Homo sapiens: one gene and its partners. The gene in region 1 interacts genetically with each later gene. Each region holds a gene or a part of one and is shown in the gene's direction. Other genes may lie near its edges.

Region 1 (5,320 bases):
CTGCCCCAGCCTCCCAAATAGCTAAGACCAGAGATGCTTGCAACCACAACCAGCTAATTTTTTTTTTTTAATTTTTTTGTAGAGATGAGCTCTCACTATGCTGCCCAGGCTGCTCTCAAACTCCTGAGCTCAAGCAATCTTCCTGCCTGGGCCTCCCGAGGTATTGCAATTATAAGCATGAGCTGGCTGTACCCAGCCATTTTATACTTTTAAATACCAAATTAGACATCCTCGTATTTTTTACTTAATGGCAAAACATTTTTATTCTCTTGCCTCAGAGTAAATTTGAGTATCACAGGGCTTGAAATCTGACTGTCAAGTTACTTACTACTGTATGGCTGATGGCTAGAAATGCTGTAAGCTGGCTCACTTGAGACAGCCAAGGTTCTCCTTTGTGAGTGCCATTAACCTGGACCCTCATGCCATAGCATAGACAGTGGCAAATCTTTCATATTGCATTGCCAAGTTTGTGTGAATGGCAAGAAAAAAGTTGATATTTGATGTAACTGAGGGTACTGGTTAAATGGCCTGATCTCAGGCCGGGTGTGGTGGCTCATGCCTGTAATCCCAGCACTTTGGGAGGCCAAGGCAGGTGGATCACCTGAGTTTGGGAGTTCGAGACCAGCCTGACCAACATGGAGAAACCCCGTCTCTACTAAAAATACAAAATTAGCCGGGTGTGGTGGCTCATGCCTGTAATCCTAGCTATTCAGGAGGCTGAGGCAGGAGAATTGCTTTTACCCAGGAGACAGAGGTTTCAGCGAGCCGAGATTGCACCATTGCACTCCAGCCTGGATAGCAAAAGCGAAACTCCGTCTCAAAAAAAAAAAAAAAGGGCGTGCTTTCCTCATTACAGTCAGTTGTAGGTTATGGTCAGCCAAAGACCATGCACTTGTAATCGGGGTTTATGTGTTTTTGCATTTTCCAAGTTTCCTGTTTTTGAGGGTTTGTCTGTGGCTCCAAAGTTCTTTTGCTTATTCATTTATTCAGAAATATTTACTGAATGCCTACCATGTGGTAGGCATTCTTCTAGGTGTTAGGACGTGTAACAGTGAGCAGAACGAAATGTCGAAACGCATAGAGCAAATATTCTAATAGTTAAAAAAATAGATAATGTATCAGTAAGAGTCCAATTAGAATGTCAGAAACTACCTTAGATGTAGAAGGAATTGGTCTCACATGTGTTAGAAGGGCTGGGAAAACAAAAGGTAATAGGAGGGGTGCTGGGAGAACAAATAGGAAGAAAAGGGAAAACCCAGAAATAGTAATTGTTAGTACCCCTGCTACTTGACTGTTGAAAATGCTGTAAAAGTTTGTTCTGAATTAGGAGAAAAGGCGCTCCCTCAACCAGGCTGAAACTACCACCAGTGTTGTTGCCAGAAACCTGGAGCAGGAAGGAGCTGCTTCTCCCTTCCGCCTTCCAGTCACCCACCATTAATACCTGCTATTGGCAAGGCCCATCTGGATGGCAGATGGCAAAGCAGCCTGGAAAGTGGAGTTTACCAACTTCTACCTCCTACAGTATATAGTGGAGCACAGCAAAGTGGAAAAGGAGGCCGGGCGCGGTGGCTCACACCTGTAATCCCAGCAATTTGGGAGGCCGAGGTGGGCAGATGACCTGAGGCCAGGAGTTCAAGACCAGCCTGGTCCAACATGGTGAAACCCTGTGTCTACTAAAAATACAAAAATTAGCTGAACGTGGTGGTGGGTGCCTGTAATCCCAGCTACTCTGGAGGCTGAGGCAGGAGAATTGCTTGAACCCGGGAGTTGGAGGTTGCAGTGAGCCAAGGTCACGCCACTGCACTCCAGCCTGGGCAACAGAGCAAGACTCCATCTCAAAAAAAAAGAAAAAGGAAAATAACATGGCCAAATACACTGCTAATTACCATGAAGAAGAATACAGCAGAGTAGGAGGATAAAGAATAAAGACAGGGGTGAGGGGAGCTACTCTAGTGAGAGTCAGAAGAGGCCACTTGGCAGAAGGAACATTTGAGCAGAGACTTAAGAGAAGTGAAGGCATAAGTGACATGAAAGCATTCCAGGCAGAGGAAACAGCAAATGCTGAGGGCCTGAGACAGGCAGAGAACTGCAAGGACACCACGGTTGGAGCTCAGGCAGCAGGGTACAGTGGTGGGAGATAAGGACTGGTGGCTGAGGAGCCCTGGGACTTTGTAGCCCATGATAAGGACTTTAGACTTATGGGAGGGGGAGGAGAAAAGTGGAAAACAGGGAGATGAGGAAGGAGTCTTATCACAGTGGCTTGAATAATGTGTTAATCTTTACAGCGTCCAAGAGCAATGTAAAATGTAGGGGCAGTAAAAGATAAACAGAAAAACTAAGGGGAAAAAAATTCTAAAACTTCTTCAGAAAAATTCTGGAGCGGAGAGCATGTGTGGAGCATGCATGCATGTCCATGCTATAACTTCATCTACAGAGAAACAAACAGTTTCATCTAAGGATTAACTAAGTATGTACTTCGTTTTTACTTCCTTCCTCCCCTAACCGCACAGTCTTGAACTTGCAAGTTTACTTTTAAGGAACCTTGGTTAGACTGGAAATAAAACTTTATTCTGTGTCTACTATTGCAAGGCACAGTATTAGACACTGTGAAAAAGTAAAACATATAAAATATGCATCCTGCTCTTAAGACATATTTAGTCATGGACAGAGGCATGGATAGTTCAATTAGGATATAAGAATTGTTATAAAGTAGTAAATTAATGGTACATACAAGTGCTGAGGGTTCAAGGAAAGAGAAAAACATGAAGTAGAGGTTGTCTTCAAAGTTTTCTTAGAGAAGGAAGTTCAGCCATATTTTAAAGGATCAGCAAGATTTTAAATGTACTAATCTTTAAGCTTCAAGACATAGGGACTTGGCACAGAGCACTTAGCACAGAGCCTGGCACATAGTAGGTACTCAGTCATTTGTTGAGTGAATTAAATTTGTACTTATTTGATATGACAGCAAGTTGAGAGGAAAGTAAGTTGCGAATAATGACTAAAATTGAAATATACTGCCTCTGCCTCACTTTATTCTATAGTAAGTACAGTGCGCTGTTAGAGATAAAACCTTATAATCTAGTAGTGTTCTAATCTGCTTGTAAGAACATTTATCTAAAAAGCATAAGAATGAAAGATTTGAGGTAAGGCGATTATATTTTAAGAAATATAGTAACAAATATATATTTAGAAATATATTTCTAGAAATGTTCATCTAGAAATATGTCTAGAAATTCTTTCTCATGATCATTTTATTTTGTTATTACCCAAGAGTTTATATTTCCATGTATTACCTACATTTTTGGTTTCTTTTTTTTCTTTCCTTATTCAACTTGTATGCTGGCCGTTTTGCTACCTTTCTGAGACTTTCCATTAAAAGATGAACAGAAAGTCAGTTGAAATCACCTGCTTTTCCTGAAGACTTCGAGTTTGGTATCCATATTATCCCATGGAAATTTGAATATTTAATATCACTGAATAAGCCTTTGGTCCAAAGTGGTGATGTATAATAATGGAATTATTAGCCTATTATTCTGAGAATTAAACACATTGATATCATCACCTTTCTAAATATCAGTAGAAGTTTGAATGTTTACTAATATAAAAATCATCTTGAAAGATTTCTTCCTTTTCTTTTTTTCTCCCAGGAGGAAGAAGCAGTACTTTTTTGTCTCATAGCATTAGTAACCAAGCTAATGTTCACCAGTCTGTCATTAGCTCCTGGCTCAGCACTGATCCTGCAAAAGACCGAATTGAAATCACAAGCTTACTTCCCAGTAGGTCTCTGTCTGTGAACACTTTGGATGTTTTAGGTCCTTGTCTTGTTTGTGGAACCGATGCAGAAGCAATTTATGTTACTAGACATCTTTTTTCGTAGAAGTACTATAATTATAAGATTTCAGATAGAACATGCAATTAGCCTTTTGAAATCCAACTTCTGTGCAAAATTTTAGTATCAGAAAATACGAGATTTGCAGGGGAAACATCAGTAAACTACCATTAATGTCAATGCCCAGTTTTGACTTTTGTTAGCCTGACACTCCCAAACAGTTGTAGAATCCGATAGATGACTGATGGCAAAAGATTGTGAACATGTGGAAGAAAATCAGTGGGATTCTGGTGCTGATGAATAGGTTGCCTTCAGAGTATTATTGACAGACAGCTTGTGGAACTAATTCTTTATTTTTGATGTTGTGGGAATTAACACATCAATGGTGGTTATGGGAACTACCAATGGGTTCCTACAATTTTTATCAGTAGTATGTGGCATATACACCTTCCTAGTGGCAGTTGCCAATGTTAATGATTATTCTTTTTATTGCAAGTATTTCCTATGATCCTTCCACACTTTATTTCCTTAATAATAATAAACTTTTTCAGAAAGAATTGAGTAGAGCAAAAATGACAAAGATGTGTAGCTGTGTTCAATTTTTTTTTTTTTTTTTTTTTGAGGCAGAGTCTTGCTCTGCTGGAGTGCGGTGGTGCAATCTCGGCTCACTGCAACCTCCACCTCCCAGGTTCAAGCAATTCTCCTGCCTCAGTCTCCTGAGTAGCTGGAACTACAGGTGTGCGCCACCACGCCCAGCTAATTTTTGTAATTTTAGTAGAGACAGAGTTTCACCATGTTGGCCAGGATGGTCTCGATCTCTTGACCTCATGATCCACCCGCCTCGACCTCCCAAAGTGCTGTGATTACAGGTGTGAGCCACTGCACCCGGCCTGAAATTTTTTTAAGGTGAAAATGTTTTGACAAGTTCCTTTTTCAGAATAGGTTTTTGAGCAGAACTCTTTCAGCTTGTTAGACCCAACTTTGCTTTTGTTTAGCTTCACAGCATAGCTGAAAGTTGCCAAACTGGACATTGTGCAATAAAGTAGAATTCTATATTGATAAGCAAACTATTTCCAAACTAAAAATGTGATAGATAAAAGTGTGATTAATCAAATGATATGATCAGAGTAAAGAATTTTGCCATTTTGATCCTTTTACTTTGTTTTAGCCACCTATAGTGTTACCAACCATCTTTATCCTTGTCTGCAGGGATAATAATGAACTAATGTAGTGTTTTAAGATAATTTAATGATACTATCTTTCCAAACTTTGTTAGATTTTAAATGTATTATTGACCTGAGACCTTAATGACAAATCACTGCTATTAGACAATTGAAGTGTTCATTTACTTTGTAATTCCAATAATCATAGTTATGGAATTATGGTAAGGTTTTGCTTTTCTGTCCTAATAAATATATATATTTTTTGAGATGGAGTTTTGCTCTTGTTGCTGAGGCTGGAGTGAAATGGCATGATCTCAGCTCACTGCAA
Region 2 (5,963 bases), on another chromosome or scaffold:
TGGGATTACAGGTGTGAGCCACTGCACCGGGCCTGTTTGTTTGTTTGTTTATTTTTTGAGATGGAATCTCACTCTGTCGCCCAGGCTAGAGTGGCGCAGATGAGTACAGCAATACCCTATATATGTTCTCTTTCTCTCTCTTTTTTTTTTTTTGAAACGGATTCTTGCTCTGTCGCTAGGCTGGAGTGCAGTGGCGCGATCTTGGCTCATTGCAACCTCCCTCCCGGATTAAAGCGATTCTCCTGCCTCAGCCTCCCAAGTAGCTGGGACTACAAGTGTGCGCCACCATGCCCAGCTAATTTTTGTATTTTTAGTAGAGACGGGGTTTCACCATGTTGGCCAGGATGGTCTCGATCTCTTGATCCCCCCGCCTCGGCCTCCCAAAATGCTGGGATTACAGGTGTGAGCCCCTGTGCCTGGCCCGTAGTCTCTCATTTTAAACATATTCCAACTTAATGCTATCAAATATTTTATATTTTGTTGTAATTAACATATTAAATATTTTTAATGTACTTAAAAGGTACACCAGAGTTTCTTGCAGGAAAGCCAAAATATCTATTAGCTCCTTTCCCTTAGTTCCTTTCTCCTATCTAATAGAAATCAGTTTTTATATACATTTCATTGCTACTTAAAAACCAAATATCTTTTAACCAGATTTGAAATCAAGAAAAAACTAAAAACAGCCAAAAAGAAAGAAAAGAAAGAAAAGAAGAAAAAGCAAGAAGAGGAGCAAGAAAAGAAAAAACTGACACAGATTCAAGAATCTCAGGTAGGAGATTCAGTGTTCCTCATTGTCCAAAGAATAAACCTGTTTTGAGTGTGTGTGTGTGTGTGTGTGTGTGTGTGTGTGTAAAAGGTGGATTTATATTAATCAGCCTAAGTTTATAAGACTTGTGACATGGTTTCATTAATCTCTGGACATATCACCATTAGCTGTGCTGTTAAATCCTTAGCACTTTTTCCTTTGCTTTCCTTTTTCCTTTTCTTTTTTCTTTCTTCTTTCTTTTTCCCTTTTCTTCCCCTCCCTTCCTCCTTCCCCCTTCCCTTCCTCCTTCCCTTCCTCTTCCCTTTCCCTGGTCTCATTATGTTGCCCGGGCTAGAATACAGTGGCTATTCACTGGCACAGTCATAACACACTGAAGCCTCAAACTCCTAGTCTCAAGCAGTCCTCCTGAGTTGCTGAGACTACAGGCATATGCTACCGTGCCCGGCTTTCACTGAAGTCTGCATTTAAAAAGCAGCCCTCAACTGCAGTGACTCACATGTGTAATCCCAGCACTTTGAGAGGCCGAGGCAGACAGATCACTCAAGGCCAGGAGTTTGAGACCAGCCTGGCCAACGTGGCGAAATCCTGTCTCTACTAAAAATACAAAAATTAGCCTGGCGTGGTGGCTTATGCCTTTAATCCCAGCTACTCGGGGGGCTGAGGCACAAGAATTGCTTGAACCTCAGAAGCGGAGGTTGCAGTGAGCTGAGATCATGCCATGGCCCTCCAGCCTGGGCAGAAGAGCGAGGCTCTGTTTTAAAAAAAAAAAGCAGCCCACTAGTGAGTGACCATCCCTTAAGGAAAAGTTGGTAAACAACCTGTCCTAGGTAGCCAGATGCTTATGATGTTTACTTAGATGTATATCATCCTTTACTTGGTATAAATATAGCTGGGAAAATAATCTCTGTATTTATCATAAATGAGACTCCATCTCAGAAAAACAACAAAAAAAGATAATGTGGGGCTGAGTGTAGTGGCTTATGCCTGTAATCCCAACATTAGCTGTGTTGTAGTGTGTTCTTCCAGAAAGAGTTTATTCGGATAATTCTTGAACTTGGAATAGGCATTTTAGACAGGGCTTACTTTACTGCGCTATCCTCTTTGTCCACAAGAGGATGCTCTCTCCCCTTACATAAAAGCTCTAAGTTTTTGCAGCCCATATAGATTGATGTTGGAGGACTAAATGCATTAAGTAGGTTTAGAGAATCTTATCAGCTGTTGGTAAAAAGGGCCATTCTATATATCCTTCCCTTCCTAGGTAACATCCCACAACAAGGAACGGCGTTCCAAGCGGGATGAGAAACTAGACAAGAAATCTCAAGCCATGGAGGAGCTAAAAGCAGAGCGAGAAAAACGAAAGAACAGAACAGGTAAGCGAGGGAAATATAATGGCTACTTGTGTCTTTATATGATTTGACTTCCTGGTGTCCATTTTCATTTTGCCCTCTTGTTATATCTTTCTCATATAAAATTCCAGCACATACCCAGAATAGTATAAACATCCACAAACCCATCATCCAGCCACAGCAGTCAGCTCTTGGCCAGTCTTGTTAAATCTATAATCCTTTCATCAGATTATTTTAAAGCAAATACCAGCATTATTATATTTTAACCATAAATATTTCAGTATGTTCCTCTAAAAGATAAGTACTTTTGTTTTAAACCTAACTATAATACCATTATTACACCTAGAAATAACAATGAACTCTTTGTCAAATATCTAGTCAGTGTTCAAATTTTTCTATTTGTTTTGTAATTTAAAAAACAAGATTTTAAAAACATTTCTATTTGTTTTGTAATTTAAAAAACAAGACCACTTGAATCAGGATCTTAAAGTCCATACATTGTGATCTGTTAATACGTCCCTTAAGGCATTTAATCTGTATGTTTTCTTCCCCATCTCTTTGCCCTGCCTTGCAGCGTTATTTGCTGAAGGAACTGGGTCATTTGTCTTCTGGTTTCTCACATTGCTGACTACATCTCGTTTTTGTTGTTGAATGTGTTTCTGGTCCCTTGGGTTTCCTGTAAATGGTTAGTTAGAGCTACAGAATTGGTCAGATTTGGGTTTGTTCTGTTGTTGTCATTGTTGCTTGTTCTTGGGGAAGGCTGATTTTTAGGTAGTGGTATGTATTTCCATCAGGAGACACATGATATCTGACTGTCTCTCAGTTTGTGATGTTAACAATCCTGTCAGTTAGCTCTTACCACAATAATGTGAAGTAACAAACTAACCCCTGTTCTGCTCATGCATCTGAAGTTCAACTGCAATTCACCCTCCTGATGGCATGAGTTCAGCTGGAATTATCTCCAAGCTATAGGTGGTAGCCAGGTCTGTTCTACCTCTCTCTTCCTCCCTGGGCCAGTAAACCCCGAGCACTTTTATATGGTGATGACAGAAGTATAAAAGGGGCAAGCAAAGACACACATGCCTCTTAGGGCCTAGACTTGGAATTGGCATAGTGTCACTATGGGGCCGGGAAGAATGACTAAGGCATATAGCAAAGGACATGGGTATAGAGATGGGTGAAGAATTAGAAAGGATACTGTGGGGGCCGGTCGTGGTGCCTCACAATTGTAATCCTAGCACTTTGGGAGGCCAAGGTGGGCGGATCACCTGAGGTCAGGAGCTTGAGACCAGCCTGGCAAACATGGTGAAACCCCATCTCTACAAAAAATACAAAAATTAGCTGGCCATGGTTGTGCATGCCTGTAATCCCAGCTCCTCAGGAGGCTGAGGCAGGAGAATCCCTTGAACCCGGGAGACGGAGGTTGCAGTGAGCTGAGATTCCGCCACTGCGCTCCAGCCTGGACAACAGAGTGAGACTCAATCTTAAAAAAAAAACAACAAAAGATAATGTGGGGCTGAGTGTAGTGGCTCACGCTTGTAATCCCAGCACTTCGGGAGGCTGAGGCTGGAGGATTGCTTGAGGCCAGGAGTTCAAGACCGGCCTGGCCAACATGGTGCAAGCCCATCTCTACTAAAAATAATAAAATTAGCCAGGCCAGGCACGGTGGCTCACACCTGTAATCCCAGCACTTTGTGAGGTCAGAGCAGGCAGATCACGTGAGGTCTGGAGTTGGAGACCAGCCTGGCCAACAGAGTGAAATCCCGTCTCTACTAAAAGTACAAAAATTAGTCAGGCGTGGTAGCACATGCCTGTAATCCCAGCTACTTGTGGGGCTGAGGCACTGAAAATCACTTGAACCCGGGAGGTGGAGGTTGCAGTGAGCCAAGATCCTACCATTGCACTCCAGCCTGGGCAACAAGAGTGAGACTCTGTCTCAAAAAAAAAGAAAAAGAAATAATAACGTGTTCTGTCCTAGTAGCCACTGATGGTCATTACCTAGATAATTTAATTCATTAGGAGTTGCAAAATGGTGATATTTCGAATCTGTCATTCTTTCCTCATTCATTATCTAGCCTGCTTCTATAAAGAGAAACCTTTTTTTTTTGAGACGGAGTCTCGCTCTGTCGCCCAGGTTGGAGTGCAGTGGCGCGATCTCGGCTCACTGCAAGCTCCGCCTCCTGGGTTCACACCATTCTCCTGCCTCAGCCTCCTGAGTAGCTGGGACTACAGGCACCTGCCACCACGCCCAGCTAATTTTTTGTATTTTTAGTAGAGAAGGGGTTTCACCATGTTAGCCAGGATGGTCTTGATCTCCTGACCTTGTGATCCGCCCGCCTCGGCCTCCCAAAGTGCTGGGATTACAGGTGTGAGCCACCGCACCCGGCCTAAAGAGAAACTTCTAATCAGCTATTTAGTTACCCCCCAGGCACATTTTGAACAGGAAAGGCAAGATAAATGCTTGATTAATTTTCCTTTCGTTTACCAGTTTTTGAAAGAATGAGATAGTTCCTGGCAAGGTACAGTGGCTCACATGTGTAATTCAAGACCAGCCTGGGCAACATAGTGAGACCCTGTTTCTGCAATATTTTAAAGAGAGAGAGAGAGATAGTTTTTAGCAACTTCCAAAGATGACTGATGGGTTTTATTTATTTTGAATATCCTTGTGAACTCATCATTTTTAACGTGCTTTATGTGTTTTAATCCATTGCAGTTATTTTTCCTTCCTTCCATCCATCTTTTTCTCTCTCTCTTTTTTGAGACAGGATCTCTCTCTGTTACTCAGTCTGGAGTGCAGTGGCGCGATCTCGGCTCATTGCAACCTTCACCTCCCGGGTTCAAGCGATTCTCCCACCTCAGCCTCTTGAGTAGCTGAGACTACATGCGTGCACCACCACCTAATTTTGTTTTGTATTTTTAGTAGAGATGGGGTTTAGCCATGTTGGCCAGGGTGGTCTTGAACTCCTGACCTTAAGTGATCCGCCTTGCCTTGGCCTCCCAAAGTGCATGAGCCAACACTCCCAGCCTAAAATTTTTTTATATTATTCTTTTTTCTTTTTAAATCGTAAGTACACAGATTAACCTGCCATCTTAGATTAATGGTAGCATATTATACACAGTTTTCTCTCTCTTTTTTTTTTAGCCACCACTCCTGGTTTGTTTTTTGTATTTTTGGTAGAGATGCAGATTCACCATGTTGCCCAGGCTGGTCCCAAACCCCTGAGCTCAAGTGATCTACCCACCTCGACCTCCCAAAGTGCTGGGATTACAGGCATGAGTCACCATGCCTGGCCACGTTCCTTTTTTTTTTTTTGAGATGGAGTCTCGCTCTGTTGCCCAGGCTGGAGTGCAGTGGTATACAGTCTTGGCTCACTGCAACCTCCGCCTCCCGGGTTCAAGCGATTCTCCTGCCTCAGCCTCCCAAGTAGCTGGGATAACAGGTGCCGGCCACAATGCCTGGCTAATTTTTGTATTTTAGTAGAGACAGAGTTTCACCATGTTGACCAAGCTGGTCTCGAACTCCTGACCTCAAGTGATCCACCTGCCTCTGCCTCCCAAAGTGCTGAGATTACAGGCGTAAGCCACCGCACCCGTCCCCACGTTCCTTTTTTATAGCTGCATAGTAGTTCATTGGTAGATGTACCAGTGGTGATTTAGCCACTCTCCTATTTTAAATTTTCCTCAGAAGCTTCTGAAGTCATCATGAGTCTTTCCCCCTCTTTCCTCCCCATAGTCAAGTGTCTTGAGTGCCATAAAAGAGAACTGTCAGTAGTGTTGGTGACCCTTTCTGCCCACCTAGTATCAATCTTCCAGCCCTTTTTTCATCTGCTGGGGCCTGACATTTGGCACCT
Region 3 (5,963 bases), on another chromosome or scaffold:
GGCCAGGATGGTCTCGATTGCTTGACCTCGTGATCCGCCCTCCTCGGCGTCCCAAAGTGCTGGGATTACAGGCATGAGCCACCGTGCCCACCTTTTTTTTTTTTTTTTTTGAGATGGAGTCTCACTCTGTCGCCCAGCCTGGAGTGCAGTGGCACGATCTCAGCTCACTGCAACCTCTGCCTCCCAGGTTCAAGTGATTCTCCTGCCTCAGCCTCCTGAGTAACTGGGACTACAGGCACATGCCACCACACCCGGCTAATTTTTGTATTTTTAGTAGAGATGGTGTTTCACCATATTGGTCAAGCTGGTCTCAAACTCCTGACCTCAGGTGATCCACACACCTCAGCCTCCCAAGGTGCTGGGATTACAGGTGCAAGCCACCACACCCGGCCTCCATCTGTTCATCAACTAACATTTGCCCATCCGATTGTAGTAGGCCCAAGAAGTAGACATGGGGCCTGCCCTTAGAAAGCAGCTCAGTGGTCAAGATGGGTTTGCAATCATGGTACCTGTGATATGCGCAATAATAGAGATGTTAAAGGGTGGTGCAGAGGAGGGCACCACCGAGGTATGCGCTTAGTCTAGAACCCGGACCATGAGCTGTGCCTTCAGCTTTGTATAACTTAAGGGATTCTGAAGCAAGCTGAGCTCAGTGTCTCTGGGCTGCATGGAGCGAGTTGCTGACCTCAGCCCCTGTGAGGGGAGGACGGTTTGTTTCAGACATACTCTGCAGGGCATTTCTTAGATGATGTGCGTGCCTTTTGTGCCCAGGTAATCCAGCCTCCACCCTAGTGATAGTGCTGATGAAGTCATTGTCTCCTTAGAGCTAATATCCTTCCTGCCTGTCTTGCCACTTCTCCATCCCAGCCATTCCCCACCACTAAGTGCAGGATATCAGGGGAACCTAGGGGTTCCGGCCCTAAGGGCCATGGCCAGTTTAACCCACTCCCCTTTCTATTCAGAGCCTGCGATTATTGGCCAGTGACTTGCAGAGGCACAGTATTGCCCAGCTGGATCCAGAGGCCTTGGGAAACATTAAGAAGCTCTCCGTAAGTCTCATATTCATCTCCACACATAGGATGCCTCCAGTAGCTTTCTTGGGCTACCTTTATTTAGGATTGTCTTTTGGGCCTGGGCTAATACTTTCTACTTAAATTTGTGTTGTCTTCCTTCCCCCAAGAGATTTTGACTCTTACCCTACTTAGATAGCAGCAGTTCTGTTCCTCAGTTGATGTTGAGTTTTGTTCAATCCCAGGGTGCCTGCCACAGAAGTTCCACTGCAAAATCAAAATTCTGCCTCATTCAGGCAGTTAGTGCTAGGGGTATGTTAGGTCACTATTGGCCACCAGAAAGTGAAACCTAGAGTAGCTCAAGAATGAGGGTCGGGGCTTGTTATCAGGAATCTTACAGAATCAAAGAGCGAGCTGAACGGCCAAGCCTCTGGAGTGGTGGGGCCCATCAGCTGGGGCCTGTGTGCTCATTTCTCTCACACATCTTCATTCCTCCCTCAGCAGATAACCTTCTCCACAGGCTCCAGGTTCTGTGCTTACTTAACATTGTTTTGCATGTGGCTTTGAGTAACCACACCTCCAATCCCAACTTTATTGCTCTATTGCCCAATTGTTCAATTTCTTGTCTTGGTTTAAATTCTGAAGAGGGCCAGGCACAGTGGCACACACCTGTAATCCCTGCAGCTCAGGAGGCTCAGGTGAGAGAAATTGTTTGAGCCCATGAGTTCAAGGCTGCAGTGACCCATGATCGTGCTGCTGCACTCCAGCCTGGGTGACAGAGAAAGACCTCAGCTCTAAAAATAAAGTAAATTATCAATTTAATTTAACTGAAGAATGTAATGGCTCCGCCAGGGATGAACCTCCTTGGTCTGGTCAGCCATCATCTTGGGTGGTGGATGAAGCACTTAGTGTAAACATGGCAACCTTACCCTCATCCTTCTGTGGGGTCTGAAGGGTACATCCAAGGAAGGGGACAAGGCGGGGCTGGTTTCCTAAACCTGTCTTTCTGAACATAGGCCCAGTGCTGAGATCCCACACACACCTAGCCACCCAAATCTTGTGACTGTCATCCTCTAGCTAGATCTATTGCAATGTTCTTCTCAAATCTATGATACCTTTACTGTCTCACTTGAGTTGTTATTTTACTCCCTTGTTCAGATGAGAAACAGGTTCAGAAAGGTGAATTCATGTGTGATACAGATAGAGAATGGAGGGGCTCAGGCTGACTGTGGGAGGCCAAGGGGCAAGCCTGCCAAGTGACATCTTCTACAATGACCTCTCTCCTTTTCTTTTTAGAACCGTCTCGCCCAAATCTGCAGCAGCATACGGACCCACAAATGAGACACCAAAGTTGACAGGATGGACTTTTAATGGGCACTTCTGGGACCCTGAAGAGACTTCTTCCCTTCAGGCTTATTGTTTGAGTGTGAAGTTCCAGAGCAAGGAGCCATGTTCCTCTAAGGGAATTCAGGAATTCAGACGTGCTAGTCCCACACCAGTTAGGTAGAGCTGTCTGTTCACCCTCCCATCCCAGCTGATCCCAGTCACTGCTTGCTGGGGCCATGCCATGGAAGCTTCCCATCAGTCTCCCAGCTGAATCCTCCCTGCTCTCTGAGCTGCTGCCTTTTGCCTCCTGCAACTCAACATCCTCTTCACCCTGCCCTGCCTGCAGTTGAGGGGGCGAAGAAGAACCCTGTGTTCTCAGGAAGACTGCCTCCACCACCGCTACCCAGAGAACCTCTGCATCTGGCATTTCTGCTCTCTATGCTTGAGACCGGGAGGTTTAGGCTCAGATAAGTGAGCTCTGGGCCATGAGAGGGTAGGTCCAGAAGGTGGGGGGAACTGTACAGATCAGCAGAGCAGGACAGTTGGCAGCAGTGACCTCAGTAGGGAACATGTCCGTCTACCCTCTCGCACTCATGACACCTCCCCCTACCAGCCCTCCTCTTCCTCCTCCTCCTCCTCCTGTGGGAGGTGGTCAGTGGGACTTAGGGATCTTTCACCTGCTGTGCCCAGTAGTTCTGAAGTCTGCTTGTGGAGCAGTGTTTTATGTTTATCCCTGTTTACTGAAGACCAAATACTGGTTTGGAGACAACTTCCATGTCTTGCTCTTCTACCTCCCTAGTTAGTGGAAATTTGGATAAGGGAACTGTAGGGCCCAGATTCTGGAGGTTTTATGTCATTGGCCACAGAATAACTGTCTCTAAGCTATCCATGGTCCAGTGGTCCCTGCCAAGTCTGTAGACTTCAGAGAGCACTTCTCTCTTATGGGGTTCATGGGAACAGGGGTGGGTGTGACTTGCTTGGTGGCCTCATTCCATGTGTGCCTGTGCCTGGGGCATGGACTTTGTTAAGCAGAGTCAGCAGTGAGGTCCTCATTCTCCAGCCAGCCTCTCTGCCCTGGAGAATCATGTGCTATGTTCTAAGAATTTGAGAACTAGAGTCCTCATCCCCAGGCTTGAAGGCACATGGCTTTCTCATGTAGGGCTCTCTGTGGTATTTGTTATTATTTTGCAACAAGACCATTTTAGTAAAACAGTCCTGTTCAAGTTGTATTCTTTTAAGTTCTTTTATTCTCCTTTCCCTGAGATTTTTGTATATATTGTTCTGAGTAATGGTATCTTTGAGCTGATTGTTCTAATCAGAGCTGGTACCTACTTTCAATAAATTCTGGTTTTGTGTTTTCTTTTGTAATCACTGTTCATCCTGCCTGTCCTCTCCAAGCTGTGCTCTGTGGACTAGGGAGACAGCAATTGTGTGGGAGTCTTTGCACATCTGCTTTTCTCAGATGTGAAAACCTTTGCTTTGGGCAGATTCATTCTGATATCTGAAAGAGGGGCTTACTACAAGATCCAGAGCATCGGTACCTTCAACCCCCAGCAGAGCGCCCCCAACACCTTCATTCCATGAGCTAGAAATTTGTGTCTGGGAGGACAACACCTAGGGTCTCTGTAATTTCCCAGTATAGTAGACTTTTCTTGGCCAGGAACAAAGCGGGGCAAGAGTAATTCGGTGATCATGAGTCTCACTTCCCAAAGTTTCTGAGGCCCTGGCAGATCTGCCTTCCCGGAACTCTCTAGGCTGAAAATGATCAACCTAGAGCTAATGATGCAAGAGGGTTCTGCCTAAAAGAAGACAACCTGGGGGCATACTTAGCCAGGTTATTGGGTATTGACAATTTATAGACTAGGAATCTTCTGGTAGTGACAGCATTTGGAAGAATGGTTACTCAGTGCAAATAAGCAACCCAGACTATATGTCATCAGGCCTAAAGAGCCTGACACCAAGGAAACACTTAGGATCCAACCTGCTTTACCCAGAACCAGGTTCATCCTGTTTCATTCCATCTGCACCACTGCCTAAATCACCTAGTAGGAAATGCATGTTATGTAGCAGGTGCCTAATTAACACCTGGGACTGAGACATGGCAGTTCTTCATTTCATATAAGGGGCTGGCTTGGAAAGTAAAGAGTTCCCCATCCCAGGATTGATTGATTGATTGATTTTTTGAGACAGAGTTTCGCTCTTATTGCCCAGGCTAGAGTGCAGTGGTGAGATCTCGGCTCACTGCAACCTCCACCTCAGGTTCAAGCAATTCTCCTGCCTCAACCTCCCAAGTAGCTGGGATTACAGGTGCACACCACCACGCCTGGCTAAGTTTTGTACTTTTAGTGGAGACAGGGTTTCGCCATGTTGGCCAGGCTGGTCTCCTGACCTCAGGTGATCCACCCACCTCCACCTCCCAAAGTGCTGGGATTACAGGTATGAGCCACTGTGCCCGGCCCCATTCCAGGATTTTTAAAAAAAATTTTGTTTTTTATCATTTGGTATTTTTGTTGATTTATTTTGTAGAACTTATGTCCCCACCATCCCAGGATTTTTAAGTACAGGCTGAACTATGTCACAGGGCTGGGACAAAGACAACCTAAATCTTACTGCCAGCCCCCAGACATACTTTCATACTCGTTGGGTTGGGTTTGGGTTTTTTTTTTTCCCCAAATTAGTTGCTAACCATTTAAATATCGGGCGATTACACAAAGATTGCTAGCCTCTGAAAATAAGATCAGACAGCACGGGCCAACAGTCAGCTGGAGCTCAGTAGCAGCTTTCCTTGGCCCGCAGAGAATCCTCTACCGGTTCAAAGCAATCCTGATGAGATTACTTCTTCCCTTGATGTTACCTGCCTTATCTCTGTAGGCAATTTAGTTTTTACTGTCTGCTGTGGAGAGAAAGCATAGAACAGTAGGGCTGCCCCAGGTTGAAGGGAGAATGGAGGCCTGGAGTCCATCCCCAGGGCCGCTGAGGCAGTTTTAAGGAACCCCAGAGGTCCAGTCAACAGTAGGTTCATTCTTTGTCCTACAGGGCCCCTGTTATTTCCAAAAGCCCTACTTGGGGCTTCCTGTTGAGAAGATTACAAATGTATTATCTTGTGACGAGTTAGATTATATTACTCATATGAAGAGTTAGCTCATGTGCGTGTGTGACAGGACATCACCTAAGCATTTCTCCAAAGCATCAGACATGCCTTTTACCAGGAGGAATTAATATCCCCAGCCTGACCCATGATAATGAGTTCACATACCAATGCAGGGCTTAGCTCCACGATGTATCCCCAAACCTCTGAAAAACAAAGCATGTCTCAGTGCCTACCTGTGTACACACTCTGGTGGGTCCATTTTCTAATTTTACACAGTATCATAGCTGTTGACCCATACCTAAAATTCAGCATGACATATGTACTCAAAACTTTCATAGTAGATACAATTCCTGTGGCTCCAGAAATGGAAGGACTGAGAGACACTCTTCAGAGAGGATTCAATCAGAATTGGGGGCTACACTGGGCTCCCTGCTAAAAGGGGGGTCTGGAATCCAATTTGCTTTGCCTAAGATGCCATCTCCCTTTAAGGGATTAAACATCTCCTCAGCCCTGTATCATCCCTACCTGCATCACCC
Region 4 (5,963 bases), on another chromosome or scaffold:
AAATACCCACCTAATAAAATAAATAACATGGCTAACATGGTGAAACCCTGTCTCTACTAAAAATACAAAAAATTAGCCCGGCATGGTGGTGGGTGCCTGTAAGTCCCAGCTACTCTGGAGGCTGAGGCAGGAGAATGGTGTGAACCCGGGAGGCGGAGCTTGCAGTGAGCCGAGATCACGCCACTGCACTCCAGCCTGGGCGACGGAGCGAGACTTGTCTCAAAAAAAAAAAAAATTCTATAAAAATTGTTTCTTTTGTTTTGTGGTTACTTTTGTTTTCTTAGGAAATATACTGTCCTCGGCCGGGTGCGGTGGCTCACGCCTATAATCCCAGCACTTTAGGAGGCCAAAATGGACAGATCACCTGAGGTCAGGAGTTTGAGACCAGCCTGACCAACATGGAGAAACTCCCCCTCTACTAAAAATACAAAAATTAGCTGAGCATGGTGGCACATGCCTGTAATCCCAGCTACTCAGGAGGCTGAGGCAGGAGAATCGCTTGAACCCGGGAGGCGGAGGTTGTGATGAGCAGAGATCGTGCCATTGCACTCCAGCCTGGGGAACAAGAGCGAGACTTCGTCTCAAAAAAAAAAAAATACACTCTCCTTTATCTACATCTGCTTTTATCGCTGTCTTTGCCTTATTGGATGTTTGAATTTGGGCAAGAACATAATATAATCTGTGTGCTGTTGAAGTTCCTCATCTATAAAGTGAAAACATTGAACTAGATTATATTTAAGACTCTTTCCAGCATTTTCATATGAAGGTATTATCATCTGCATGCTTTTTTTCCCCCTTTATGATTTGTTTTTTGTAATAGATAATCATGCACATGGTGTAAAATTCAAAAGAAACAAAAGGAAGTGTGTAGTGGGAGTGTCCTGCTATTACCCCTCACCTGCCCTCCCTAATGGCATGATACTACGTTAGAGCCAGTCACAGCTCATTGCAGTCTCAACCTCCTGGGCTCAAGTGATCCTCCCACCTTAGCCCCACAAGTAGCTGGGATCACAGGCATGCACCACAGGCTGATTTTTTTATTTTGTAGAGATGGGGTTTCACCATGTTGCCCAGGCTGGTCTTGAACTCCTGGACTGAAGCAATCCTCTCACCTCGGCCTCCCAAAGTGCTGTGATTATAGGCGTGAGCCACTACGAGGGCCATGATGCAATTTTTTATTGTGGTAAAATATGTATAACATAATATTCCTCATTTTAACTTTTTTTTTTTTTTTTTTTTTTTTTTTTTTTTTTTTTGAGACAGAGTCTTGTTCTGTCACCCAGGCTGGAGTGCAGTGGTGGGATCTCGGCTTACTGCATTCTCCGCCTCCGGGGTTCAAGCGATTTTCCTGCCTCAGTCTCCTGAGTAGCTGGGACTACAGGCATGTGCCACCATGCCTGGCTAATTTTTTTGTGTTTTTAGAAGAGACAGGGTTTCACCATGTTGGTCAGGCTGGTCACGAACTCCTGATCTCAAATGATTCTCCTGCCTTGGCCTCCTGAAGTGCTGGGATTACAGGCGTGAGCCACCATGCCTGGCCCATTTTAACTATTTGTAAATGGTATAATTCAGTAGAATTAATTACGTTCACAGTGCTGTGTACCCATCACTGTTATCTGTACTCAAAACTGTTCATCACTGCCAACATAAACTCCATATTTTTAAAGAATGCCTCCCCCTTCCTCCTCCCTCTACCCCCTATTCAACTGTCTGTCTATAAATTTGACTAGGTACTGCATGTAAGTGGAATCACAGTATTTGTCCATTTGCAACTGGCTTATTTCACTAAGTAAAATGTTTTCATGGTCTGTCCATTTTGTAGCATATATTAACTTTATTCCTTTTTATGGCTGAGTAATATTCCATTGTGTGTGTATACCACATTTTGTTTATCCATTCATTTGTAGATGGACCCTTGGGTTGTTTCTACTTCGTGGCTATTGTGAATACTGCTACTATGAGCATTGTTGTACAGATAAATGTTTGAGACCGTGCTTTCGATTCTTTTGGAAATATACCTAGGAGTAGAATTGCTGGCTCATATGGTAGTTCTATGTTTCACGTTTTTAGGAACTGTCAGACTTTTCCATAGCAGCTACACCATTTTACATTCCTACCAGCAATGCTCAAGGGTTCCAGTTTTTCCAAATCTTCATCAGCACTTGTTGTGGTGCTATTTATTGTAGCCATCCTAGTGACTGTGTTGTGAAGTGGCATCTCCATTGTGGTTCTGATTTGCATTTCTCTAATAATTACTGATGTTGACCTTATTTTCATGTGCTTATTGGTCAATTGTATGTCTTCCTGGGGAAAATACTATTCATATCCTTTGCCCATTTTTTTAAATTGGGTTTTTTGTTGTTATAGGAGTTCTTTATATATTCTGGATATTAATCCCTTATCTGTTATAGGTTGAGTATTCCTTATCCATAATGCTAGGATCCAGAAATGTTTTGGATTTTGGATTTTGGATTTTGCAATATTTGCATTTATACTTACCAGTTAAGCATTCGCCTACTTATTTATTTACTTAATAGAGTTGCCCAGGCTGGTCTTGAACTCCTGGGTTCAAGCGATCCTCCACCTTGGCCCCCCAGAGTGCTGGGATTACAGGTGTGAGCCACCGTGGCCAGCCCCAGTTAAGCATTCTAAATCCAAAAACTTGAAATTCGGTATGCTTCAATAAGCATTTTCTTTGAGCATCATGCCAGTGCTCAAAAAGTTTTGGAGTTTGGAGCATTTCAGATTTCAGATTTTTGGATTTGATATGCACAACCTGTAAATGATTTGCAAATATTTTCTCCCGTTCTGTGGGTTGCCTTTTTCACTCTTGATGGTTTCCTTTGATGCACGAAATTTTAAAATTTTGAAGTCTAGTTTATCTAAATTTTTTTCTTTTGTTTCCCATGCTTTTGGTGTTATATCCAGGAAAGCATTGCCAAATCCAGTGTCATGAAGACTTTCCCCAATGTTTTCTTCTAAGATTGTTATAGAATCCTCAATTCAGGCTTGTATCCCCAATGTGGAGCTGAGAGCAAACACTGAGTCACCGGTACTTGGAGATAGAGAAAGGTTTATTCGATTTGGCTAAAGCAAGAAGATGGGAGGGCAAGATCTCTCGAATCCATCTAAACAAAAGGAAGCATTGGGTAGATTTTATGTGACTAGATCTAGTAAGGGAGGGGGAGTTTCACAGAATCCAGTGGAAAAGTCTGTGTTTCTTTGGTCTCAGGTAACGCCTTGAGCAACCAGATGTCTGGTTGTTAGCAGCTGGTCACAGTGTCCTTAAAGCCATTCATTTCTTCTGGCAACATTTTTCTTTACATGACGCTGAAGTTATCTTCTCTTGATTGACAAAGAAGCAGTACATCAACAGTTTATCATTATATTGTGGCAACAAGGGATATTCAGCAAAAAGTGAGTGGTTAACATGCGCAAGCAAGCAAGGGCCTGATACAAATTATTTATTTCAGTCATTAAAAAATGTTAGGGTGCTGAAATCTAGTTTTCCCAGCACCATTTCTTGAAAAGACCATTCTTTCCCCTGTTGAATGGTCTTGACACCTTTGTTGAAAATAATGGCTATATATATGGAGGATTGCATTCTGGGCTCTCTTGTGGACATTTATCTGTATGTCTCCTTGTCCTAATAGCACACTGTTTTAATTCCGGTAGCTTTGTAGCTTGAGTGGCTATTCAGACTGTTTTACAGCTCTTCTCAGGGGAGGAGTATGTCTGATTGCCTTTGCACTAGGGCTTCCCTAAGCCAAACAGCTGCTTATGGGGAGGAAGGAATAGAAATTTATAGAATTATAAAAGTTTTTTTGGCGTTAAGTCTGAGGTGTGTCAGTTCAGTATACTATAGATTGGATTTGGGAGTGGTGGCATAAGAAGGACTTTTCTTTGAATTTCAAGATACTTATTTGTATTTAGTTTAGTCATCTTTCATTAATATATTAGCAGTGGCAAATCCATATGGGTCTGCAGCAGCCTCATTTCTTGCCTCTTCAAAAGAAAGAATTCCACCTAGGGGCATAAGGCAGAGTAAGAGACTAAGATAAGTTTTAGAGCCAGAGTGGAAATTTGTTAAAAAATTTTACAGCAGAAATGAAGTAAAATACATTTGGAAGAGGGCCAAGTGGGTGACTTGAGAGAGTCAAATGCATGGTTTGATCTTGGACTTGGGTTGTTACACGTTGGCATGCTTCCCAGGGGTTGCGTCTCTTCTCTGATTCTTCCCTTGGGGTGGGCAGTCCGCATGTGCAGTGGCCCACTAGTGCCTGGGAGGGGCTGCGTGTGCAGTGTGTTTACTGGAGTTGCGCAGATGCTCACTTGAGGCGTTTTTCCCTTAACAGAATGTTCCTAGAAGGTCATAGATCAGTTAAGCTCCACCATTTTTCCTCTTAGTGCACATGCTTGAGCCCAGTCATCCAACTCCTCAGATCTTATCAGGAAGCTGCTGATCACCAGTTTCAGGTGTTTCTATCTGTTGGGAGACTACCTTTCCCTGGCACTGGCTGCAACCAATGATTAGTTTAGAGAGAAAGTTTAACAACTGCCTGATCATCACCTGATGGTTGCTTGACATTCCTGGTGGGGTGGGGTCCTCTGCTGCCCTGCTCATGTCTGACTACCTACTGTAACAAATGCATTTATTTTCTCAACATTTGTGTTTGTATTAATTATTCAGTGGTGTCTGTAGACAAAAGTTTGCTAAGATGTTATCTTTGAAGTTTATGTAATATTATCCTTTTAATGTTGAGACTCTTTAAGAAGGATTTTGGTAACCATAGACAGTAATCTGTTGATTGCTAAACTTTATTGACTTAGTTTTTTTTTGAGACAAAGTCTTGCACTGCCACCCAGCCTGGTGTGCAGTGGCATGATCTCGGCTCAGTGCAGCCTCCGCCGACCACACTCAAGCGATTCTCCTGCCTTAGCCTCTCTAGTAGCTGGGATTGCAGGCGCCCGCCACAATGTCTGGCTAATTTGAATATTTTTAGTAGAGATGGGGTTTCACCATGTTGGACAGGCTGGTCTTGAACTCCTGACCTCAAGTGATCACCCGCCTCAGTCTCCCAAAGTGCTGGGATTACAGGCGTGAGCTACTGCACCTGAGCTTATTGATGTTTTTAGTAAAGTTTCATCTTATCTGTGTGCCAGAAGATAACTTTTAAATGTGATGTTGGAATTTTACAGTGATCATAAAGCTTGCTTTCTACCATTCTTTTGGTCCCTGTTAAAAGCCTTCACTTAAAAGTGCATGGTAGCTGGGTGCAGTGGCTCACACCTGTAATCCTAGCAACTCGGGAGGCTGAGGTGGGAAGATCAGTTGAGGCCAGGAGTTTGAGACCCATCTGGGCAACATAGTGAGACCCCCCCATCTCTATAAAAATAAGAAAAATTAGCTGGGCATGGTGGCAGGTGCCTGTCATCCCAGCTACTGGGAAGGCTGAGGCAAAAGGATCACTTGAGCCATGATCATGGTACTGTACTCCAGCCTGGGTGACAGAGCAAGACCCTGTCCCTAAGAAAAAAAAAAAAATAATAATAATAGTGGTCCAAATGGGATTAACAGAAAATTATTCTTGAGAGAAGAAATTGCATGCCTTTCTTTTTTTTTTTTTTTTTTTTTTTTTTGAGAGAGGGTCTTACTCTGTCACCCAGGCTGGAGTGCAGTGGTGCGATCTTTGCTCACTGTACCTTCTGCCCCACTGGCTCAAGCGATCCACCCGCCTCAGCCTCCGGAATAGCTGGGGCCACAGGCGTGCACCACCACACCTGGCTTTTTTTTTTTTTTAGTTTTTAGTAGAGACGGTGTCTTGCCATGTAGCCCAGGCTGGTCTTGAACTCCTGAGCTCAAGCAGTCTGCCTGCCTCGGCTTCCCAAAGTTTTGGGATTACAGGTGTAAGCCATCACGCCCAACTCATTTACAGTTAAAGGGTCTAATGCTTGCAGCATGC
Region 5 (5,963 bases), on another chromosome or scaffold:
GCATGGTGGCTCACACCTGTAATCCCAGCACTTTGGGAGGCTGAGGCATGAGGGACCACCTGAGGTCAGGAGTTAAAGACTAGCCTGGCCAACATGGCAAAACCCCCATCTCTACAATAAATAAATAAATAATAAATAAGCAGGCTGGGTGCGGTGGTGTGCATCTGTAGTCCCAGCTACCTGGGAGGCTGAGGCAGGAGAATCACTTGAACTGGCGAGGTGGAGGTTACAGTGAGCCGAGATTGTGCCACTGCACTCCAGCCTGGACAACAGGGTGAGATTCTGTCTCAAAAAAAAAAAAAAATGCTGGGCGTGGTGGCTCACGCCTGTAATCCCAGCACTTTAGGAGGTCGAGGCTGGTGGATCACCTGAGGTCAGGAGTTCGAGACCAGCCTGACCAACATGGAAAAACCCCATCTCTACTAAAAAGACAAAATTAGCCGGGCGTGGTGGCACATGCCTGTAATCCCAGCTACTTGGGAGGCTGAGGCAGGAGAATGGCTTGAACCCGGGAGGCTGAGGTTGCGGTGAGCCGAGATTGTGCCATTGTACTCCAGCCTGGGCAGCAAGAGCGAAACTCCATCTCAAAAAGAAAAAAAAAATCAGCTATAGGAGTTTCCTCTTTTTAAAAGCTGTGGATAATTTGAATAATCACCATGTTTCCTTAATATAATAACATATAGTAATAAAAGCTGCCATCAAACATCATATCATTGATACAGTGATTTTTATATTCTAAAAATTATTATTAGGTATTAGAATTTTTCTTTTTTTTTTTTTCCTCGAGATGGAGTCTTGCTCTGTTACCCATGGTGGAGTACCATGACAGAGTGAGCGCAACGTCAGCTCACTGCAACGTCCGCCTCCCGGGTTCAAGTGATTGTCTTGCCTCAGCCTCCTGAGTAGCTGGGACTACAGCCATGCGCCACCACGCCCGGCTAATTTTTGTATTCTTAGTAGAGATGGGGTTTCTCCATGTTGGTCAGGCTGGTCTCGAACTCCCGACCTCAGGTGATCTGCCAGTCTTGGCCTCCCAAAGTGCTGGGATTACAGGCGTGAGCCACCAGGCCGGGCCCAGGTATTAGAATTTTTCAACATGAAAACAATAAGTATATATTTTGAGTGTGAAGTTGTTGCATTTCCTTTTCCTTGCAAGCTACATTGTAACTTAAGTGTAATAGCAGTTTACTCATTCAGGTAAGAACCCAGTTAACGTCCATTATATGATTCTTATATTAAAGTCATGGTGAATACTGAGACAGTTTTAGAATAGTGATATATTTTGAATATTTGCAGTTGTTACAAGTCAATCCTTTTAGTAAACATCCTGCACCATGATTTTTTGTCATTGAGGTCATTACAGGAGTTAGAAAACTCCGGCTGAAAGTGAGGACACTCCCCTGCTTTTATCTGCAGTGAGGGTCTGTGACTGTTGGAGAGGTGACTCGGGGGTCTTTCTCTTAGTCTGCAGTGAGGGTCTGTGACTGTTAGAGAGAGGTGGACTCGGGTCTTTGGGAGCTTTGATGTCCCACTGCCTGGCATAATAGACCATAAGTCCTCTTTGTCTGAGGCTCTGAGTTTTACAAATGTTTTTCTTTTCTTTTGTAATGTGTGTGTGTGTTTTAAGTTTTAATTTCTTTTTATCATTATGAGAATACACTTCTGTAGGTTCGTGCTAACCATGTGGTACATTCTTACCTTTTACTTGACGTCATTTAGCTCGGGTGAAGAGAACCGATCTGGACAAAGCGAGGACTTTTGTTGGCACCTGCCTGGATATGTGTCCTGAGAAGGAGAGGTACATGCGGGAGACCCGTAGCCAGCTGAGCGTGTTCGAAGTGGTCCCAGGGACTGACCAGGTAGAGCCCTGCATCTCCCCGTGGAGTGTGGGCAGGGGACGGGGCTGCTTTTGTCATTTCTGTACATACTTGATTTGGGTGTTTGTTTTAGACAGTGTTGGGTATTTGTGCTATTAACAATCATATTAAGCTGTTTTGCATTGTGAGATGTTCACTCTGTAATTGGTACCTATACATGATAAGGTATAGATGCAAGTTATTTTAAATAAAGTTGTTTTTCAAATTCTTTTTTTTTTTTTTTTTTTTTGAGACAGGGTCTCACTCTGTCACCTAGGCTGAAGTGCAGTGGTCCAATCATGGCTCACTACAGCCTCAACTTCCCAGGCTCAGGTGATCCTCTCCTCTCACTCAGCTTACAGAGTAGCTGGGATTACAGGCATGCTCCACCACGCCTAGTTACTGTTTTATTTTTTGCAGCGATGGGGTCTTGCCGTGTTGCCCAGGCTGGTCCCGAACTCCTAAGCTCAAGTCATCTGCCCACCTCCGCCTCCCAAAGTGCTGGGATTACAGGCGTGAGCCACCACATCCAGCTAACTTTTTTCTTTTTACGATCTTATTCCTGTCTGTTTCTATGCTTATGTTTTACACATTCGAGATTATGCTCTAGATACAATTTTATGTGTATCTTTTCCACTTAAAATTATGTCATGAACATTTTCCTTTGTTAGGGTAAACTATGAGCATTTAAAAATGACAGCATATTATTTTATTAGTAGCTCTGTCAAAACTCTGCATTTTTACCATTAGTAGATAGGCTGCTTCTAAATTTTTAGTTCTATTAGTAATATTGTTTGGCATCTTGTATGTAATGCTTCTCTGGTATTTAGATTATTTTCTTCAGATCCTAAGAATTAAATTACTGCATCAGAGGGTATGACCTTTCCTGAACATTATCCATGTATCTTCCCAAATTGTTGCCCCAGAAAGCTGCACCAATATAGATCCTTTTGGACTTTGTGAATTTTGCTTATGGGCTTCTCCTCTTCCTGGCTGGTGGCTTTATACACCCTTCGCCTGGTGCGGGGTCCCCAGCCCAGCAACTCGTGTCACTGTAGGGCCCCTGCCCCAGGAGAGGCACATGCCCAGGGCCTTGTCCTGTGTACATCTCTGCCTCTTCCCTTGGCCACGTCTTCAGCCTCCTTTTGAGGTGGGAGATGCAATTCCAGGCCCCAGGTGGGCAGCCAGCCCCTGATGCTGTGTCCTCAGCAGTCCTCACCGCCTGTCTCTGTTTCACTTCTGCTCTGTGTAGACTTAATCTGGTGTGTGAGCGGGCCTGAGACCTTTTAAGTGCTTGAGGCCCTTCCCTGTCCCGTCTCTCTGCTTTGGAGGCTAGCAGATGTGCCTTCACTTAACATTCCTCCTGTTTGTCATGACGCACTCATATCTTAACTCCTTGTCATATTTGCCAAAATCAAATTTCTCTATTTGTCTTTGAATTTTGATTGTCACCTTTTAACAGAAATTTTATGTTGAAAAAATATATTCTCAAATACTGATCTTGTGTGGGTGTGTATGTGATTTTCCCCCTCATTTTCAGGCATAACTATGCCTGGCCCAAGGTATGCCACATGGGCATCCTGTCTCGGCTTCATGTCTCTAGGTGGACCACGCAGCAGCTGTGAAAGAGTACAGTCGGTCCTCGGCGGATCAGGAGGAGCCCCTGCCCCACGAGCTGCGGCCCTTGCCAGTGCTCAGCAGGACCATGGACTACCTGGTGACCCAGATCATGGACCAGAAGGAGGGCAGCCTGCGGGATTGGTATGACTTCGTGTGGAACCGCACGCGTGGCATACGGAAGGTATTGGCTGCCTCCAACCTGGATGCTAAAAAATCCACGCAAATTCCAAAGTCAAACTGATATTTTTATTACTCTGTTATATATTTTATCTGTAACAAAAATGTACTTTTGTGGGCCAGGTGCAGTGGCTCAGGCCTGTAATCCCAGCACTCTGGGAGGCCGAGGTGGGTGGATCACCTGAGGTCAGGAGTTTGAGACCAGCCTGGCCAACATGGTTAAACCCCATCTCTACTGAAAATACAAAAATTAGCTTGGCGTGGTGGCACACGCCTGTAGTCCCAGCTACTCGAGCGGCTGAAGCAGAATTGCTTGAACCTGGGAGGCGGAGGTTGTGGTGAGCCAAGATGACACCACTGCACTCCAGCCTGGCTTCTGTCTCAAAAAAAAAAACAAACCCCAGGACTTTTATTTAAGTCACTACAAAGTCCTATTAAAATGTGCATCATGGGCTTTGTTTCAAATTGAAAAGTGAGAAATTGAGGTCGTAGCATGATCCTTCTCACGGTTGCCTCTTTGCATGGGAATGTGTGTGTGATCCTCCCCCTCGCCTGTGGCCAGGATATCACGCAGCAGCACCTCTGTGACCCCCTGACGGTGTCCCTGATTGAGAAGTGCACCCGGTTTCACATCCACTGTGCCCACTTCATGTGTGAGGAGCCCATGTCCTCCTTTGATGCCAAGATCAATAATGAGAACATGACCAAGTGCCTGCAGAGCCTGAAGGAGATGTACCAGGACCTGAGAAACAAGGGTGTCTTCTGTGCCAGCGAAGCGGAGTTCCAGGGCTACAATGTTCTGCTCAGTCTCAACAAGGGAGACATCCTAAGGTGAATTTTCACATCCAAAAGTTGTCCTAAGGTGGCTGAAAAGGCAGGCTTTAAACAGGAGAAGAGCTTTCAGGAGTGGCAGTAGCCAATAGTGCAGCATTCTGTCTGGTAGCAGATGTTGGGATGATAGTAGAGGACCTTGGTCTGGCTTTGCAGTCGGCTGAGCTGAGCTGGGGGAAGAGCGATGGGGGTGTGCCCTGGGACCAGCACATCTGACGTAGGCCCCACATGTTCATTTCTGAAAATAGTTTCTCCTCACCAGTGAGAAAATGAGGAAGGAATCCTCCTCATGAGACAGGTGAGTGAACCAGGAGAGGGAGTTCCAGGTGCCCTGCAAGGTTGTTAGCAGTTCCCTGTTCCCAGATAGTTTTGTCAAAGATCTCAGAATAAGAGAGGAAAAAATTATGTAAAACAAAAATGCGAAGAATGGGGTAGTGAGAATGAATGAATGTAAAACCCTGGTCTGATCCATAATTAGTCACTTACATGCGAAGTCTGGCGAGCTCTCTGGCCCTCTGCTTGTGGTGGACCCTCTGCTTGTGGTTAAGCTGGACTTATGGTGGACAGTGTCCCCTTTAGTTCTAAGAATCCCCTATCAATGGTGAACCTCTTTTTTTTTTCTTTGTATTTTCCTCAAGAACTGTGTGACAGAATATCTAGATGTGTGGTTGATTTTAATTTTTTATTTCATTTTATTTTTGAGACCGAGTCCTGCTCTGTTGCCCAGGCCGGAGTACAGTAGTGCGATCTTGGCTCACTGCAACCTCCACCTCCTGGGTTCAAGCGATTCTCTTGCCTCAGTCTCCTGAGTAGCTGGGATTACAGGCACATACCACCATGCCCGCCTCATTTTTTTGTATTTTTAGTAGAGACAGGGTTTCACCATGTTGGCCAGGCTTGTCCGGAACTCCTGACCTCAGGTGATCCACCTGCCTCGGCCTCCCAAAGTGCTGGGATTACAGTTAGAGTCTCCATGCCCGGCTGATTTTAAATTTTAAAATTAAGCCTTGTATAGCCTGGGCAACATGGTGAGACCCTTCCACAAAAATGAATAAATAAATAAAATTAACCAGGTGTGGTGATGTGTGCCTGTAGTTCCAGCGACTGGGGAGGCTGAGGTGGGAGGATCCCTTGAGCCCAGGAGGTCAAGGCTGCAGTAAGCTGTGATCATGCCACTGTCCTCCAGTCTGGGTGACAAAGCAAGACCCTATCTCTTAAAAAAAAAAAAAAAAAACCCAGGTGTGGTGGCCCATGGCCTGTTATCACAGCACTTTGGGAGGCCGAGATGAGAGGGTTGCTTGAGGCCAGGAGGTTGAAGCTGCAATGAACTGTGATTGTGCCAGTGCACTCCAGCCTGGGTGATAGAGCAAGTACTCTGTCTCAAAAAAAAAAAAAATTAAACTGGTTATGAAAGATTGCTGTATTGTCTTTTTCTACGTGACAAGCATTTGTTCTCCATCACGAATAATTCAGTCAAAA

What was found.
Region 2: changes in NUP43 (region 1) and RTF1 together harm fitness more than expected from each alone (negative genetic interaction), as found in Homo sapiens cells (one large-scale study listed by BioGRID).
Region 3: changes in NUP43 (region 1) and CDCA8 together harm fitness less than expected from each alone (positive genetic interaction), as found in Homo sapiens cells (one large-scale study listed by BioGRID).
Region 4: changes in NUP43 (region 1) and SEH1L together harm fitness more than expected from each alone (negative genetic interaction), as found in Homo sapiens cells (one large-scale study listed by BioGRID).
Region 5: changes in NUP43 (region 1) and MCM3AP together harm fitness more than expected from each alone (negative genetic interaction), as found in Homo sapiens cells (one large-scale study listed by BioGRID).

The regions. Positions count from the first base shown.
Region 1 is NC_000006.12:149,725,526-149,730,845, reverse strand, and holds part of NUP43 (nucleoporin Nup43), read left to right. Parts: intron 1-82; coding exon of another isoform or gene 83-213; exon of another isoform or gene 214-1,327; coding exon of another isoform or gene 1,328-1,356; exon of another isoform or gene 1,357-2,285; coding exon of another isoform or gene 2,286-2,326; exon of another isoform or gene 2,327-2,366; intron 2,367-2,367; coding exon of another isoform or gene 2,368-2,456; exon of another isoform or gene 2,457-3,647; coding exon 3,648-3,877; 3' UTR 3,878-5,320. UniProt on the Homo sapiens protein: Component of the Nup107-160 subcomplex of the nuclear pore complex (NPC). The Nup107-160 subcomplex is required for the assembly of a functional NPC.
Region 2 is NC_000015.10:41,464,117-41,470,079, forward strand, and holds part of RTF1 (RNA polymerase-associated protein RTF1 homolog), read left to right. Parts: intron 1-654; coding exon 655-769; intron 770-2,024; coding exon 2,025-2,136; intron 2,137-5,963. UniProt on the Homo sapiens protein: Component of the PAF1 complex (PAF1C) which has multiple functions during transcription by RNA polymerase II and is implicated in regulation of development and maintenance of embryonic stem cell pluripotency.
Region 3 is NC_000001.11:37,706,016-37,711,978, forward strand, and holds the end of CDCA8 (borealin), read left to right. Parts: intron 1-962; coding exon 963-1,049; intron 1,050-2,306; coding exon 2,307-2,351; 3' UTR 2,352-3,704; downstream 3,705-5,963.
Region 4 is NC_000018.10:12,956,846-12,962,808, forward strand, and holds part of SEH1L (nucleoporin SEH1), read left to right. Parts: intron 1-5,963. UniProt on the Homo sapiens protein: Component of the Nup107-160 subcomplex of the nuclear pore complex (NPC). The Nup107-160 subcomplex is required for the assembly of a functional NPC.
Region 5 is NC_000021.9:46,271,082-46,277,044, reverse strand, and holds part of MCM3AP (germinal-center associated nuclear protein), read left to right. Parts: intron 1-1,719; coding exon 1,720-1,859; intron 1,860-3,459; coding exon 3,460-3,657; intron 3,658-4,215; coding exon 4,216-4,484; intron 4,485-5,963.